4 separate regions of the Homo sapiens genome follow, and all the other regions are linked to region 3. The links come from fine-mapping of genetic effects on gene expression. A gene starts in region 3. Each other region holds a variant in brackets. All regions are shown on one strand. Distances are between the middles of the regions.

Evidence for each region. PIP is the estimated chance that this variant, and not a neighbour inherited with it, causes the effect.
Region 1: its variant is fine-mapped to the expression of IFITM2 in whole blood (TOPMed, PIP above 0.99).
Region 2: its variant is fine-mapped to the expression of IFITM2 in whole blood (INTERVAL, PIP above 0.99).
Region 4: its variant is fine-mapped to the expression of IFITM2 in blood mononuclear cells (TOPMed, PIP 0.98).

The regions. Positions count from the first base shown.
Region 1 is chr11:349,386-352,140 of GRCh38, reverse strand. No RefSeq gene overlaps it. Among named protein-coding and RNA genes, the nearest start is that of B4GALNT4, 19 kb to the left of the region's middle. RefSeq lists a cis regulatory region at 850-1,326. The variant T/G (reference allele first, on the strand shown) is at 1,088.
Region 2 is chr11:345,434-348,188 of GRCh38, reverse strand. No RefSeq gene overlaps it. Among named protein-coding and RNA genes, the nearest start is that of B4GALNT4, 23 kb to the left of the region's middle. The variant T/C (reference allele first, on the strand shown) is at 1,192.
Region 3 is chr11:306,422-308,921 of GRCh38, reverse strand. IFITM2 (interferon induced transmembrane protein 2) reads right to left here and starts at 1,106. Exons shown (of 2, transcript NM_006435.3): 1 at 484-1,106. The coding sequence starts at 729. RefSeq lists enhancers at 1-65, 446-865.
Region 4 is chr11:357,458-360,077 of GRCh38, reverse strand. No RefSeq gene overlaps it. Among named protein-coding and RNA genes, the nearest start is that of B4GALNT4, 11 kb to the left of the region's middle. The variant G/A (reference allele first, on the strand shown) is at 1,520.

The DNA.
Region 1 (2,755 bases), 43 kb before region 3:
AACTTGCTTTCTTTTTTTTTTTTTTGAGACGGAGTCTCGCTGTCGCCCAGGCTGGAGTGCAGTGTCGCGATCTCGGCTCACTGCAGGCTCCGCCCCCCGGGGTTCATGCCATTCTCCTGCCTCAGCCTCCCGCGTAGCTGGGACTACAGGCGCCCGCCACCACGCCCAGCTAATTTTTTTTTTTTTGTATTTTTAGTAGAGACGGGGTTTCACCGTGTTAGCCAGGATGGTCTCGATCTCCTGACCTCGTGATCCGCCCGCCTTGGCCTCCCAAAGTGGTGGGATTACAGGCGTGAGCCACTGCGCCCGGCCAACTTGCTTTCACTTTATGGACTCCCCCTGATTTCTTTCTTGCATGAGATCCAGGAACCCTCTCTCGGGGTCTGGATCGGGACCCCTTTCCGGTAACATCTTTCTGGCGACCACAGAAGAAAAACTGCAGACTCAAAACCTAGCGTTGGGTAGGTGACATATCTCTGGTGACCTCAGGAGGGGCTCCAGTGCGGAAACCCCCGACCTAAAGGCTAACTTTGGGTAAGTAGTGGGGTCCGGTAACATCTTTCTGGCAAACCCTGAAGGGACAATACTGAGGAGGAGCCCCCGACCCAAAGGAAATAGACTCGGCCCTGACTGGACGACGCTGGGTAAGTGGTGGGGTAGCCGGCGAAGGATGGGATTGGGTGAGAGGCCCACTTAGGGGAGTTAGGGTCTGTCCTAAGACAGAGAGGGTGAAAGCCCACTCTTAATACAAGGCAAGGATGCTTGACCCACCTTGGGTTAGAGACCCACCTTAGGAGGGTTGGTTAGGGTCCCTTTTAAGATTTAGGGGCTTAGAGAGCCCCCTCAGTAAAGTCCCTCTCAGAAAAGTCCCTCTCGGCTGAGAACGGGTTCGGCACGAGGGGACGTTAACGGCTATTCTCTTTGGGTTAATCTGCCTTGCACTCTCTGCTGACGGCTGTGGGTGACAGGATTAGGCACGTACAGGATCGTGGAACATGGGGAGCTTTCTCCTCTCGCAAAAGGGGAACCTGAGAGCTGATGGGACTGCCGGAAAAAGTCCCTTCCCAACAGCAGCCGCCTGAAGTCC[T/G]CAGGGTTCCTGCAATGGGCGGGTCTTTCTCTGGCCTCCCTGAGCATTTTGCCTTCCCCACCCTGCCTCAGGCGATGCTTTTCTCTCTCTCCTTTCTCTTTTTTATCTTTTCTATCACTTGGGGCAACCGACTTGCCCAGAGAACACGTGTTGAAACTTGTGGTTGGAGGTTGGATTAACGATGACCGGAGCAAGTTTGAGCCTTGCCAGTGTGATGTTAGGTGCTAAGCAGAGTGGCTGATGTCTCTGTTTTCTCACACGTATTTTGCCCTGGCCAGAACGGAAAGAGGTAACTTCCTTTGTGCTGCAGCTTGGCCCCCAGGGCTGTGGTACAGCCAGTCGTAAGGGAGGAGACCACCCCTCACATTGTCTTATGCCCAATTTCTGCCTCCAGAGAAAGAAGTTAAAAGGCAGAAATGAAATCCACAAGCAGACAGCCCAACGCCACACCCTGGGCCTGGTAGTTAAAGATCGACCGCTGGCTGATCTAATCGGTTATATTACCTATAGATTCCAGACATTGTATAGAAAAGCACTGTGAAAACCCCGTCCCGTCCTGTTCTGATTACCGGTGCATGCAGCCCCCAGTCACATACCCCCTGCTTGCTCAATCGATCACGACCCTCTCACGTGGACCCTCTTAGAGTTGTGAGCCCTGAAGAGGGACAGGAATTGCTCACTCGGGGAGCTCGGCTGTTGAAGATTTGACTCTTGCCAAAGCTCCCGGCCGAATAAAGCCCTTCTTTAACTCGGTGTCTGAGGGGTTTTGTCTGCAGCTAGTCCTGCTACAGTTGGGTCACTAGGGCCCCCCAGGAAAAGAAACCCAGAAATCTGTCATGCTGGCACAAGTGCAAGAACTGCTCACCAGTCAGACTTCTGTCTCTGTGTGTGTGTGTGTGTGTGTGTGTTGTGTGTGTGGGTGTGTGTATGGTGTGTGTGTGTGGGGTGTGTGTGGGTGTGTATGTGGTGTGTGTTTGTGGTGTGTGTGTATGGTGTGTGTGTGGTGTGTGTGTGTGGGGTGTGTGTGGGTGTGTATGTGGTGTGTGTTTGTGTGTGGTGTGTGTGTGTGGTGTTTGTGTGTGGTGTGTGTGTGGTGTTTGTGTGTGGGGGGTGTGTGTTGTGTGTGTGGTGTGTGTGTGGGTGTGTGTGGGTGTGTGTGTGTGGGGTGTGTGTGGGTGTGTATGTGGTGTGTGTGTGTGGTGTGTGTGTATGGTGTGTGTGTGGTGTTTGTGTGGTGTTTGTGTGGGGGGTGTGTGTTGTGTGTGTGGGGTGTGTGTGGTATGTGTGGTGTGTGTGTGTGAGGTGTGTGTGTGCGTGTGGTGTGTGTGTGGTGTGTGTGTATGGTGTGTGTGTGGTGTGTGTGTGGTGTTTGTGTGTGGTGTGTGTGTGGTGTGTGTGTGTGGGGGGTGTGTGTTGTGTGTGTGGGGTGTGTGTGGTATGTGTGGTGTGTGTGTGTGAGGTGTGTGTGTGCGTGTGGTGTGTGTGTGGTGTGTGTGTGGTGTGTGTGGGGGTGTGTGTGTTGTGTGTGTGTGTGTGTGTGTGTGTGTGTAAACTGGACGAGGCTTCCCTCTGGTCCGTCATGTCCTTGGGACCTTGGCCTTGTAACCACGTGGCCGTACTTTCTCTTGGTTTCTGCCATCATAATGGCGGCCCGGGTTCAGGGTTCAA
Region 2 (2,755 bases), 39 kb before region 3:
ATAGTTTCCAAATCAGGCAGATAGAAACAGATACGCTCCGAATTTTGTTTACAGAAGTATACTTTACTCATTTGCTAAAAGCTGTAAATAGCTCAACAGAAAAATTTTCTTGACTCTGAAAAACAAAAGATCAGCAACCTTTTCAACAAAGTTAAAAAGATTACTTCAGACTTCTTTTTTTTTTGAGACAGAATCTCATTCTGTCTAGGCTGGAGTGCAGTGGTGCGATCTTGGCTCACCGCAACCTCCATCTCCCGGGGTTCACGCCATTCTCTTGCCTCAGCCTCCTGAGTAGCTGGGACTACAGGTGAGCACCACCATGCCCGGCTAATTTTTGTATTTTTAGTAGAGACGGGGTTTCACCATGTTGGCCAGGATGGTCTCGAACTCCTGACCTCATGATCTGCCTGCCTCGGCCTCCCAAAGTGCTGGGATTACAGGTGTGAGCCACTGCGCCTGGCTAGCTTCAGACTTCTTTAGTCTATGCAGTTAACTCCTGTTTGATATTCATGAACATTTTAGCTCTCCAAGAGAGTCCTAAAGTTTTTCCCTCTTTTCTAATGTCACAATCTCCAAAGTTATTAGAAACCTGCATTTGAGGGCCGGGCACGGTGGCTCACGTCTGTAATCCCAACACTTTGGGAAGCTGAGGCAGGTGAATCACCTGAGGTCAGGTGTTCGAAAACAGCCTGGCCAACATGGTGACATCCTGTCTCTACTAGTAACACACAAAAATTAGCCAGGTGTGGTGGTGCATGCCTGTAATCCCAGCTACTGGGGAGGCTGAGGCAGGAGAATCAGTTGAACCTGGGAGGCAGAGGTTGCAGTGAGCCAAAATTGTGCCACTGCACTTCAGTTTGGGTGACAGAGCAAGACTCTGTCAAAAAAAAAAAAAAACCCACCAAAACAAAGAAACCTGCATTTGAGTGCACCTGGTAAAGTTTTGTTTTGTTTTGTTTTTGTTTTTTTTGAGATGGAGTCTTGCTCTGTCACCCAGGCTGGAGTGCAGTGGCTCACTGCAAGCTCCGCCTCCCGGGTTCACGCCATTCTCCTGCCTCAGCCTCCCGAGTAGCTGGGACCACGGGCACCTGCCACCATGCCCGGCTAATTTTTTGTATTTTTAGTAGAAATGGGGTTTCACCATGTTAGCCAGGATGGTCTCGATCTCCTGACCTCGTGATCTGCCCACCT[T/C]GGCCTCCCAAAGTGCTGGGATTACAGGTGTGAGCCACCGCGCCAAACATCATTTCTGTGTTATTATTATTTTTGAGACAGGGTCTCTTTCAGTCACCCAAGCTGGAGGGCAATGGCATGATCATGGCTAACTGCAGCCTCCACCTGTTGGGCTCAAGTGATCCTCCTGCCTCAGCCTACTGAGTCGCTTGGACTGCAGGCATGCACCACCACATTTGGCTATTTAAAAATTCTTTTGTAGAGATGGGGTCTTGCTATGTTGCCCAGGCTGGTCTTAAACTCCTGCGCTCAAGTGATTCTCTTGCCTCAGCCTCCCAAATTGTTGGGATTACAGGCATGAGCCACTGTGCCCAGCCCATTTCTGCAGTATTACTGCCAAAAAGGCATAACCTCGTTCCAAAATGGAAAAACATCAAACAAACACAAACTGAGTGATATTCTACAAGATAACTGGTGGATAGTCTATAAAAGTGTTCAGATCATGAAATACAAGGAAAAACTGAAGAACTGTCCCAGGCTGCAGGAGGCTGGGAGAAGTAACAATGAAATGCAAAATGGAACAGAACAGAAGAGGACATTAGTGAAAAAACCGTGAAATTTGAATAAGGTCTTTATTGAACAGCACTGTGCCAATGTTAATTTCCCACTTTTGGTAATTATATTACAGTCATGTAAGATGCTGTCAGTGGTGGGAGCTGGGTGAGGGAGGTACAGAAGCTCTCTGTACTGTTCTTGCAACTTTTCAGTAAGTCCTAAATTGTTTCAAAATAAAAAGTTAGAGAAAAAATCAATATTAAGTACCTGGAAAGAAATAATACAAAAGGTGGACTAACAAAGTGGCACATGACTGAGCGCAGGTCCTACAGCCGACCTTCCCGGCACAGATCGCTACCCTGTTGCTGTGTTTCAGCTGTGTGAGATTGGGCAGATTGCCTAACCTCTCTCTGTGTCTCCATTTTGCCTTCTGAAAAATTGGGCCAATAACAGCACCTATGTCAGCAGGTTGTTACGAGTGTTCAATATATATATGTAAAGCACTTAGTACCATGCTTGGTACAGGTTAAGCACTTAGAAAGTGATAGCTTTGGCCGGGCACGGTGGCTCACGCCTGTAATCCTAGCATTTTGGGAGGCGGAGGCAGGCAGATCACCTGAGATCAGGAGTTTGAGACCAGCCTGGCCAATATGGCGAAGCTCTGTCTCTAGTAAAAATACAAAAATTAGCCAGGCATGGTGGCGGGCACCTGTAGTCCCAGCTACTTGAGAGGTTGAGGCAGGAGAATCGTTTGAACCTGGGAGGCGGAGCTTGCAGTGGGCGGAGATCACGCCACTGCACTCCAGCATGGGTGACAGAGTGAGACTCCATCTCAAAAAAAAAAAAAAGAAAGAAAGAAAGTGACAGCCTTTCCCCCACCGAACAGATTGTGATAGAAGGAGTGCTGGCTTTTATAGTATTATGACGGCCAGAATTATAAAAAGGCAATGGACCCAACTGAAGAGTGGACATTGCGTCGCCAGCTCCGTTGAGAATGGTGCTAGGAATTATCGTGGAAGAATAAAGAAAG
Region 3 (2,500 bases):
GAGATCAGGGACCACCTCCTCCCCTTCCTCACCCGGCTCAGACTCTCCAGGAGCCTCGGGGCTCATCCTCCTTCTGCCTTGGCCCCAGCACAGGCTGTTCTCCCCACCATGGGGTGAAGTCACCTGTGAGTTCCCTTCTCACTTTCTGGGAGAGCCTGGGTGCCAGTCTGGAAGGTGAAGGTGTAATTTCTTACTGGGCTATAGGGAGAACTGCTCTGGGCTAGTGGATAGCCGGGGACAGACTCTGAGCCAGCCAGCCAGCCTCCTGGAGCCTCCTCCTAGACCTGCACTGGGCAGATTCCCCAAGCCACACACACACACAGATCACACAGACAAAGCCACTGACGTGGGCACACACAGGACAGACGTGCACACAAACTCACAGTCACAGGGACACACAAGTCCCCACCCCAGGCAGCATGTGGGCAGGTGGAGCCCCAGGCTCACCGGCACCCCCTGGATTTCCGCCAGGGCCATACGCACCTTCACGGAGTACGCGAATGCTATGAAGCCCAGGCAGCAGGTGTTCATGAAGAGGGTGTTGAACAGGGACCAGACCACATGGTCAGGCACGGAGGTCTCGCTGCGGATGTGGATCACGGTGGACATCGGGGGAGCAGGGTTGTGGGGCACCCCCAGCATAGCCACTTCCTGCTCCTCCTTGAGCATCTCGTAGTTGGGAGGCTGGCCGCTGTTGACAGGAGAGAAGGTTTGCACAATGTGGTTCATGGTGACCAGCGGTGATCGGGTTACCGGGATGGTTCTCAGTGAGCCCTCCCTTTCCCCAGTAGTTCCGTTTTCTCAACAGTTTCCTCTTCCTGGCATTTGTCAAATGCAGAGCTGGCCAGGGCCAGATAAGGGCAGAACAAATTCCTGAGGATCAAATTACTTTAGGAGAGGGAGGAAAGAGGGGCTGAGGGCTAAGAGGGGCTTCCTCTCTAGAGCCCAAAGGAGCACAAGTCTCATCTTGTTAGTGGTGTGGGGTCCTGGAGACTTCCCCTGTGTTGGGAGTCTCCACACCCCAGGCCAGCAGCTGCAGGACCTCACTGTCCCGGTTCAGGGCTCCTGCCAGGCCTGCGCTGACGCCTCCACACTCCAGGCCCCACAACCGTTTCCCCAAAGCCCTCACCTCTGCCGGGCGCCGTGGCTCACGCCTGTAATCCCAGCACTTTGGGAGGCTGAGGTGGGAGGATCATGAGGTCAGGAGATCGAGACCATCCTGGCTAACACGGTGAAACCCCGTCTCTACTAAATATACAAAAAAAAATTAGCCGGGTGTGATGGCGGGCACCTGTAGTCCCAGCTACTTGGGAGGCTGAGGTAGGAGAATGGCGTGAACCGGGGAGGCGGAGCTTGCAGTGAGCCAAGGTTGTGCCACTGCACTCCAGCCTGGGCAACAGAGCCAGACTCCGTCTCAAAAAAAAAAAAAAGCCCTCATCTCACTTGTCACAGGCCTCATCTGCTGACATCCCTTGTCCTTTGCTGGGGTTGCAGTCCTGCTCCATGCGGGTTTGGGGGTTAAAGGTCCCCGTGTCTCCTGGTGCAGGTCAGAGGGTTGGCGGCCAATGTTGCCTGCCCCAAAGGAGCCCTCCAGGCCCAGGAAAGGGGACTCTGGGAGCACTGACAGAAGAGGGGGCTGTGGGATGCCAATAGCAGAGACCTGGACGGTGGAGTTAGAAGCCATGGCCCTTTCCCCTGGAGGCCCACCTGGGTGACGGCTCCCAGACCCGCTCCACACAGCCCAGCAGCACCCACGCTGCCCAGAGCTCTGGCTGGCTGGTCCCTGGGGCACCCTCCAGATTTCCAGGTTCTGATCATCTCTGCCTCTTCCCTGGGTCCTCACACGGGTGCCAGCTGCTTCCTGTAGTTGCCGCCTGTTTTTCCCATGAACCGGTGCTGCCTCTGAGCAGCTCCTGAGGTTACAGCCTCCCTGTGGAAACACCTTGTGTGGCCTCTGGGCTTCTTCCTGGACCTTCCTTGGCAGAGGCTATTGCAGCAAACAGAGCTGATGCTGTGCACTTGAGCTTGTCAGAGGGGACAGTGCGGGTCACAGGGGCAGGAACGTGGCCTGCAGGCCTATGTGCACCGCGACCTGCGCCCTGTTTAATTCCTGATGTGCTACATGGGCCCATTTTCCTGGGCTTATTCTCCCACCAGGCCAGACTCCGCAGAGGACATCGCTGAGGGTGGAATTTACAGAGATGGGCAGCTGCTCACCCTGCTGTAGCCTTTCACCTCAGCGGGTGGTCAGGTCCACGTCAGTATTCCAGAGTTTACATGACGGTAGCGTGCAGCCGTGTAACTGCAGAGTGATGTGTTTGAGTAACGATGACTTTGGCTCTATAAGATAAATTTTATTGATAATTTCTAAGATTCCTAAGATTTAACTTTAACAATGGCTGTGTCTACCATCGACTCACAGTGCTTCTCGACGTCGAACACCCTAAGTCCTCCTCCTTCTGCTGGCTGGGGTGAGCTCTAAGGGCTTAGCCATGTCCAG
Region 4 (2,620 bases), 51 kb before region 3:
ATCTCTCCCCCATCTCTCTCCCTCTGTCTCTCTCCCTCTCTGTCTCTATCTCTCCCCCATCTCTCTCTCCCTCTCTCTGTCTCTCCCCCATCTCTCTCTCCCTCTGTCTCTCTCTCTCCGTTTCTCTCTCTTTCCCTCTCTGTCTCTATCTCTCCCCCATCTCTCTCCCTCTGTCTCTCTCCCTCTCTGTCTCTATCTCTCCCCCATCTCTCTCCCTCTATCTCTCTCCCTCTCTGTCTCTATCTCTCCCCCATCTCTCTCTCCCTCTCTCTGTCTCTCCCCCATCTCTCTCTCCGTTTCTCTCGCTCTCCCTCTCTGTCTCTATCTCTCCCCCATCTCTCTGTCCTGTCTCTGTCTCTCCCCCATCTCTCTCTCCCTCTGTCTCTTTCTCTCTCTCTTTCTGTCTGTCTCTCCCCTGACATGCACGTGCTGAGGAAAGGCCCTGGGAGGACACAGTGAGTTGGAGCTTCTGAACCTGACCACGCTGGCACCCTGATCTCAGGCTTCCAGCAGCCAGAAAGGTGAGAAAATACATTTCTGTTCTGTGGTGTTTTGTAATGGCAGACTGAGCTGACTGACTCACTTCTATCCACCACACCTAGAGTTTTTCTGATGACACAGATCAAGTGAGGCTTCAGCAGGCAGCCCCCATGCCTAGGGGTGCCTTGATGGCTCAGCCAGCTCCAAGGGCTTCTGCAGGTGGAGCCATGCTGATCCCGCCTGGGCCACACCTCCTGTCTGTAGACATGAGGTGCCACCCCAGTCCTGCCATGCTGGGGCCGGCAGAGACCCCATTTCCAGGGCCCACTGCAACACCTAATTGTGCCTTTCACAATTAGGGAGGAGGGGGCATGACAACACAGTCAGTTTCGCTTTTTTTTTTTTTTTTTTTGAGAGGGAGTCTCGCTCTGTCGCCCAGGCCGGAGTGCGGTAGAGTGATCTCGGCTCACTGCAAGCTCCGCCTCCTGGGTTCAAGCGATTCTCCTGCCTCAGCCTCCTGAGCAGCTGGGAGTACAGGTGCCCGCCACCACACCCGGCTAATTTTTGTGTTTTTGGTAGAGATGGGATTTCACCAGGTTGGCCAGGATGGTCTCAAACTCTTGACTTCAGATGATCCACCTGCCTTGGCCTCCCAAAGTGCTGGGATTACAGGCATGAGCCACTGTGCCCGGCCCCAGTTTAGCATTTTTAAAAAACGAATGGACTTTATTTTTCGGAAGGGTTTGAGATTTACAGAAATAACACAGAGAGCTTCCCCGCCCCCCAGCTCCACCAACAGTTCCCCTCGTTTTTACCGTCTGGCTTAGTTCGGTGTATTTGTTATAATGAATGAACCAGTATTAATGCGTTATTGACCAAATAAAGTCACAGTTGGTCCAGAGTCCCTCATTTGTTTTCCCTGACATCCTTTCTGTGTTCCAGGACCGCGTTCCTCAGCGTCTGTCTCCCGGGGCCTCTGGGCTGGGCCGTTTTGCTTTTGACGACCTGGACAGCTCAGAAGAGGCCGGGTGTGTTGGCG[G/A]GGTGCCCCTGCTGAGATTCGCCTGCTCTTTTTGTCATGAGGAGGCTGGGGTTATAGGTTTCTTGGAAGAAGATTCCAGAGGTAAAGCAGCATCTGCATCCATCCTAACATCGCCGGTGCGACTCATAACTCGACGCCTGCCTCGTCTTCTGCAGAGACAGAGCCCGTCAGGCTCCTCTGTGCAAACCACGATGGATCAGCTCCATCGGTTTCTGCAGGTGGAGCCGCGCGGAAGGAGCCCAGCCCTTCCCACCCCGCGCTCTCTGGAAGGACGGCCCTGCGCCAGCCCACGTCGAGGGGCTGGGAGGGGCTCTGCTCCTCCTTAGGGGCAGTGTCTACGCCATTGGTTTAGAATTCTTCTGCACGGGAGATTTGTCTCTTCTCCCCCATTTATAAATTTATATCGCCATGCACTTGTAGGTATTTACAGCACACTTTGGGTTAGGATGTAGAATGAGGTGTTGCTCAAATTGTGGGAGTTCACTCAGTTGGACCCTGGGTCCACGGGCATATTTACATTGTGTGTGTATGCGTGTGCATGTGTATGTGTATACGTGTGTATGTGTACGTGTGTGTGCATGTGTATGTGTTTAGTGTGTGTATGTGTATGTGGTGTATATGTGGGTATATGTGTGTATGCATGGTGTGTGTGTATGTGCGTGGTGCCTGTGTGTACGTTGTATGTGTGGTGTGTATGTGCATTTGTGAGCATGGTGCATATCTGTGATGTGTATGTGTATGTTGTCTGTATGTGTGTGCATGGTGCATGTGTGTGTGGTATATGTGTATATGTGTGGTGTATATGTGTGGTGTGCGTGTGTGTATGTGTTTGTGGTGTGTGTATGTTGTGTGTGGTGTGGGTGTATGTATGGTGTGTGTGTGTAAAAGTGTGTATGTATGCGTGTTTGTGGTGTGTGCATTGTGTGTGTTTATGGTGTGTATGTGTGTGTTGTGTGCATGTTGTGTGTTTGTGGTATGTGTGTGTTGTGTGTATGTGTATGGTGTGTGTGTGTATGTATGTTTGTGGTGTGTATGTACATGGTGCCTTTGTGTGTGGTGTGTGTATATGTATGTGCATGGTGCACATATGTGTGTTTGTGG